Homo sapiens: one gene and its partner. The protein of the gene in region 1 purifies or fractionates together with the protein of each later gene. This does not show direct contact. Each region holds a gene or a part of one and is shown in the gene's direction. Other genes may lie near its edges.

Evidence for each region.
Region 2: the proteins of SLC2A11 (region 1) and DNAJC18 purify together in Homo sapiens (affinity purification with mass spectrometry; one large-scale study listed by BioGRID and IntAct). This does not show direct contact.

What each region holds. Positions count from the first base shown.
Region 1 is NC_000022.11:23,867,875-23,871,374, forward strand, and holds part of SLC2A11 (solute carrier family 2, facilitated glucose transporter member 11), read left to right. Parts: intron 1-606; coding exon 607-767; intron 768-3,500. UniProt on the Homo sapiens protein: Facilitative glucose transporter.
Region 2 is NC_000005.10:139,426,026-139,429,525, reverse strand, and holds part of DNAJC18 (dnaJ homolog subfamily C member 18), read left to right. Parts: intron 1-842; coding exon 843-988; intron 989-3,168; coding exon 3,169-3,354; intron 3,355-3,500.

The sequences.
Region 1 (3,500 bases):
TATCCTTCATAACAAACCAGTAAATGTAAGTAAAGGGCCTTCCTGAGTTTCGTGAGCCATTGTTGCAAATTATCAAACCCACAGAAAGGATCCTAGGAATCCCCAATTGATGGCCAGTTGGTCAGAAGTGCAGGAGTTGCACTTGGCATCTGAAGAGGGGACAGTCTTGTGGAATGGAGCCCTTTGACTTGTGGGATTTGATGCTAACTCCAGGTGGATAGTGTCAGAATGGGATTACATTGTAGTACACCCAGCTTGTGTCCGGAGAGTTAGAGAATTGCTTGATGTGGGAAAATATCCACACATTTGCTGTCAGGAGTATTGTGTGAGTAGAGAGAAATAGTGTTTTCGCAGAGAGGGGCAAATGGAGCGAGTCCAGTGCTAGGCTCTGAGAGATATTGCCCATGAAAGAACCAGCATGGTGCCCTGCACAAGGGAGGTGCTCAGGCGAGTTGGTTCCTGCTCCAGGGGGAGCTCAGAAGACACGGTGCCTGTTGTCATTGCCTGTTCTGCAGAGGCATGGAGCCCTGTTGGGGAGAAGGCTTGTTTCATCTAGCACCCCCACGCCACCATCCCCAGAAGGCTGACTGGCATTTCTGTCCACAGCACATTCAGGAATTCACCAATGAGACATGGCAGGCGCGTACTGGAGAGCCACTGCCCGATCACCTAGTCCTGCTTATGTGGTCCCTCATCGTGTCTCTGTATCCCCTGGGAGGCCTCTTTGGAGCACTGCTTGCAGGTCCCTTGGCCATCACGCTGGGAAGGTAAGTGCTTCCTGCATACCCCCTGAATGCCCTTTAATGAGGAGCGCTGCAGCCTGCAGGCTGAGGAATGTGGAAGAAGGAAGAGGCCCGGCAAGCTCCAGGCCCAGATCAGCTCCTCATCCAGCCTCTTACTCTGCCTGGAGTTTCACCTTGCAAGACACGTCTTCAAGGGTTTGGTAGAGCAAACAGTCCTGTGCTACAAGAGAGGGAGGACTCCTGGTTTCTAATTTCATGTCTGCCAACAAGTGCTAACTGACCTTAAACAAGTTATTTTCTTCCTGGGCCTCACTCTCCTCCTGCATATCTAATGCAGTTCTTGGATTTCAAAGAATACAAACTGACTCTGATAACAGAATCAAAAATGTAATAGCTGGAAGGATAGTGGGGCAGCTCATAGCATGAAAGAAGTTCTTAGAAGCCAGGCCTGGTGAGGCATGGTGGCTCACCCACATAATCCCAGCATTTTGGGAGGCTGAGCGGGGCAGATTGCATGGGTCCAGGAGTTTGAGAACAGTCTGGGCAATATGGTGAGACCCCATCTCTACAAAAAATTAGCTAGGAATGGGCTGGGTGCAGTGGCTCATGCCCGTAATCCCAGCACTTTGAGAGGCTGAGGCGGGTGGATCACCTAAGGTCAGGAGCTTGAGACCAGCCTGACCAACATGGTGAAAACCTATCTCTACTAAACATACAAAAATTAGCAGGGCGTGGTGGCACACGCCTGTAGTCCTGGCTACTCGGGAGGCTGAGGCAGGAGAATCGCTTGACCCCGCAAGGCAGAGGTTGCAGTGAGCCAAGATCATACCACTGCACTCCAGCCTGGGCAACAGAACAAGACTCCATCTCAAAAAAAAAAAAATTAACCAGTTATGGTGGTGCATGCCTGTAGACTCAGCTACTCGGGAGGTTGCGGCAGGAAGATCACCTGAGCCCAGGAGATCGAGGCTGCAGTGAGCCTTGATTGTGCCACTGTACTCCAGCCTGGATGACACAGTGAGCCCCTGTCTCAAAACAGCTCGCTTACTAGCAATCTTAGTCTATTTTTGTTGCCATAACAAAATAACTGAGACTGGATAATGTATAAAGAACAGAAATTTACTTTCTCACAGTTCTGGAGGCTGTGAAGTCCAAGATCAAGGCACCCAGCAGATGCAGTGTACCGTGAGGGCTACTCTTTCTGCTTCCAAGATGGTGCCTTGTCCCTGTGTCCTCACATGGCAGAAAGGGCGAATGCTGTGTCCTCATATGGTGAAAGACAAAAGGGCAAAAGGCAAAAAGAGCCTGCCTAGTTCCCTCCAGCCCTTTTATAAAGCACTAGTCCCATCAATGAAGGTGGAGTTCTCATGGCCTAATCAATCTCCCAAAGGCCCACCTCTAAATACCGTTGCATTGGAAATTAAATTTCAACCTGAATTTTGGAAGAGACACAAACCTTCAAACCATAGCACCAGCACTGGATCAGCAAGACTGGATTAGACCACTGGGCTCATATCTGCACCGTGGGGAGTAGGGGAACAGTCGCAAACAAAAGTGGGGCTCTTCCCACGAAGAAGACGGAGGTAATAACTATTGCGCGGCTATCTCATGATACCTGGTACAGTTGGCATAAGCATGAAAGGAAGAAATTAAAAATTCAAGTTTAGCATGTATGCCTATTGTAATTAAAGCAAATGTCTGTTCCCCTCCCCAGGACAGGGGGATGTAGTTCTTCCATTCAGCAGCTGACTGGAGCTCTGAAATGTGTTGCCATTGTTGGGTGCTCAGGGTTGGTTGTGTAGGGGAACACAACCATCTTGGTGACAGGAAGCCCCTATTGTTCAGCCCATGTGCATTTTCTGTCCTTGCTACCCTATTTGCTTTGTTTATCACCCAACTGAGTAAGCACCGGGATGGTCAAGGAAGGCAGTTGAATGCCATCTACAGATAGAGGGTCATATTGTCCATCTGCTTATGAAGAGCCTCTTTGTAGTGGGAGGGGGCTTCTGATAAGCAGAAATATATTTATGTATATTTTCACGTTCTGGGCTAATTTTATTTTATTTTTTATTTTTTATTTTTTATTTTTTTTGAGACGGAGTTTCGCTCTTGTTGCCCAGGCTGGAGTGCAATGGCGTGATCTCGGCTCACCGCAACCTCCGCCTCCCGGGTTCCAGTGATTTTCCTGCCTCAGCCTCCCGAGTAGTTGGAATTACAGGCGCCCACCAGCACGCCTGGCTAATTTTGTATTTTTAGTAGAGATGGGGTTTCTCCATGTTGGTCAGGCTGGTCTCGAACTCCTGACCTCAGGTGATTCACCCACCTCAGCCTCCCAAAGTGCCGGGATTACAGGCGTGAGCCACCGCGCCCAGCTATATTTTCAGGTTCTGGGCTAATTTTAAAAGATTCACCCACTTAGTGTTTCCCCGTACCTCCTTGAAACCAGTCTTCAAATTCTGCTTCATCTAAGACTTTTTGTCCAACCAAATCTTTTGAAAAAGGGACAGGCCGGGTGCAGTGGCTCCTGCCTGTAATCCCAGCACTTTGGTAGACTGAGGCGGGGGGATCACCTGAGGTCAGGAGTTCAAGACCAGCCTGGCCAACATGGTGAAACCCCATCTCTACTAAAACTACAAAAATTAGACGGGCATGGTGGTGGAGACGCCTGTAATCCCAGCTACTCGGCAGGCTGAGGCAGGAGAATCACCTGAACCCAGGAGGCAGAGGTTGCAGTGAGCCAAGATTGTGCCACTGCAC
Region 2 (3,500 bases), on another chromosome or scaffold:
AAACTTCTAATGATGGTTATCCCTGTGGTGGGAAACTGGGGGACAGGGAATGATGAAGCAGGAAAATTTTTACTGTATAAACTTTAGTTCTGTTGGCTCTTTTTCTTCTATCATGTGTATGTTAACTTTTTAAAAACACAGTTTAGCCAGGCACGGTGGCTCACACCTGTAATCCCAGCACTTTGGGAGGCCAAGGTGGGCAGATCACAAGGTCAGGAGTTTGAGACCAGCCTAACCAATATGGTGAAACCCCATCTCTACTAAAAATACCAACATTAGCCAGGGCTGGTGGCGCATCCCTGTAATCTCAGCTACTCGGGAGGCTGAGGCAGGAGAATTGCTTGAACCTGGGAGGCAGAGGTTGCAGTGAGCTGAGATCGCGCCATTGCACTCCAGCCCAGGCAACAAGAGCAAGACTACGTCTCAAAAAAAAAAAAAAAAAAAAGCAAAAAATACAGTTTAAAAAGATAGCCATAGGAAAAAGAGAGAAAAAATTATAAACAAACAGGGTGATTAACTGTTTCTTCTGGCTTTGCTGTCCTGTAGTTCATCTCTCAGGATCTTAGCCTGAACCTTGGTGTAACAATTAGCATACTTGTTCTACTCACTTGCAGGGATATAGGAAGAGTAAATAGTAGATGTAAAAGTACTTTGAAAGGCATTAAGTTCTGGGTGGGAGAAGGACATTGTTAATGAATTTGAATGTTTCATTAACGTGTGCACTAATTTTCTTATAGGTTTGTTTTGGGTCCCACAGATTGGAGGTAGGATCGATGTATTATCTTGCAATTAGTTGTACAAAAGGGACCTTTATAGACATACATGCTTGTGATTTTTTTTAGGATCAAGAAATGCAGAAATTACTATGAAATTCTGGGAGTTTCTCGAGATGCTAGTGACGAAGAGCTTAAGAAAGCTTACAGAAAACTCGCCCTGAAATTTCACCCTGACAAGAACTGTGCTCCTGGAGCAACAGATGCTTTCAAAGGTCTGATCCTGAACCAATGCTCAATGGTGCCCTTGTCATGGTTGGTCATAATAAGTTGCTTTTAGCCTTCCCCATAGTTGTTTTATAAGGCCATAAGGAGGGTTTTTTCCCCCTGCCACACCTCTTAAATAGTGATAATCAGCATAGCTCCCACTTGATTTTACCTAGGCTGGAGTGCAGTGGTGACATCTCAGCTCACTGCAACCTCCACCTCCCGGGCTCAAGTGATCCTCCCACCTCAGCCTCCTGAGTAGCTGGGACTACAGGTGAGCACCACCATGCCCGGCTAATTTTTGTATGTTTTGTGGAGATGGGGTTTTGCCATGTTGCTCTGGCTGATCTCAAACTCCTGAGCTCAAGTAATCTGCCCGCCTAGGCCTTCCAAAGTGCTGATATTACAGGCGTGAGCCACTGTGCCCATCCTCCATGATATTTTAAGAAATATATTCTTCAGGCTGAGCGCAGTGGCTCACACCTGTAATCCTAGCACTTTGGGAGGCTGAGGTGGGAGGATTGCTTGAGCCAGAGGTCAAGGCTGCAGTGAGCTGTGATTGCACCACTGCACTCCAAGTCATTGTTACAGGCAAAGATCTTCAGTGAATGCTAAAACCATTGAGTGCTAGGTAGTTGTCGCCTATGGGGTATTCTTGCCAAAATGTTTGACCTGAATCTAATAATGAGGAAACAATCAATATGAAACATTCTACAAGAATACTGATCTGTTCTTCCAAAAAATTTAACATAATGAAAAACAAAAAAGGTGGGACAGTTTTAGCTTAAAAGAAACTAAATGCTATACTTGATCTTGCATGGATGCATTGGATGATAATGGACTGATGTTAATTTTCTTAGCTGTGATAATGGTGTTGTGATCACATAGGAGAATGTCTTTCTTCTTGGGAGATATATGTTGAGGTATTTAGGGGCAAGGTGACGTAATATCTGTGGCCTATTTTCAAATGGTTCAGCAAAATAAATGTATAATTATTACAATACATATGTACATATGTATATATAGAGTTGTAGGTAACAGAGTGGCAAGGCAAACATTTAACAATTCCCCAGGTAAAAGAATCATGAAGAAATACTCTTTCTGTGTTTCTGACAGTGTTGACTGAATTACAGGTAGGGAGTGCGGGATGCCTTAAAAGATTTCTTTTTTTTGAGGTTTCTATTGATTGGTGCTACGGATTGTATGTTTAAATGAAATTGGGCAAGGTTTGCACGTCTGTACATAGAAAGGAGACATGTTGGTAAACATATGTAACTATTCAGCCTTTGAACCCTCCTTGAGACATTGGAAATACATTTCTTAATTTCAGAAAATATTTGTCTAAAGTAAACTGAAATAAGACTATGATGAAGACTTTGTTTTTAGTCAAGCAGGAAGGTTTCTACTAAGATTGTTTCAGAAGAGAATTCAGGAAATTTTTTGGACTACAAGTTAAAATATCACTACTGATGTGTGAACTGTTTCCAACATAAACTATTGCACTCAAGTGAAATAAGAACACTTTTTTGGCCAGATGCAGGGCTCACACCTATAATCCCAAACTTTTGGAGGCCAAGGTGAGAGGATCACTAGAGGCCAGGAATCTGAGACTAGTCTGGGCAATGCAGCAAGACCCTATCTCTAAAAAAATTTTTTTTAAAGTAAAGAGCACTCTTTGTGTGTGTGTGTGTGTGACAAAGTCTCACTCTGTTGCCCAGCCTGGAAGGCAGTGGCATGATCTCGGCTCACTGCAACCTCCCAAAGTGCTGGGATTATAGGCATGAGCCACTGCACCTGGCCAGAACACATTTTTTATGAATGAGAGTGCTGACCAGTTGGAGAACATTTCCCCAACATGCCTGGGACTTGTGGTGACTGGGAACCCGAACTGAGGGGGGCTTCCTAACTTCTAGGACAGCTGGGATGACTACAGGACTGTTGATTGGGAGTTAACTCACTGCAGCAGAAGTTCTTAATTCCTGTGATTCCAATGTTGTTGTTTCTGGCGATCAGGGAAAACCTGAAGGGCAAGCACTGTGGAGAACTTTCTAGGCCCAAGCATCTCTTCTTGGGCCCCTGCGAAGTTGTCCAGCACGAGTCACCTCTAGGCTCTTTGTCACTGCTGCTGTGATCACTCTCAGCCATAGCAAAGACTGTGTCCTCATGTGCTGGTTCTTGTTGGTTGCAGCAATAGGAAATGCATTTGCAGTCCTGAGCAATCCTGATAAGAGACTTCGCTATGATGAATACGGAGATGAACAGGTGACTTTCACTGCCCCTCGAGCCAGACCTTATAATTATTACAGGGATTTTGAAGCTGACATCACTCCAGAAGAGCTGTTCAACGTCTTCTTTGGAGGACATTTTCCTACAGGTTAGTCTCCCCAAATTATCATTCTTAAACATATTTCTTTATTTATGGCTCTCAGCAAGCTCCTGTTTGAAAATCTGAATAGAGGTACAATGGTATGATGGAAACAGCAAGGATCTAGAATCAGTTGAGCAGGAGTTTGAGGCAAG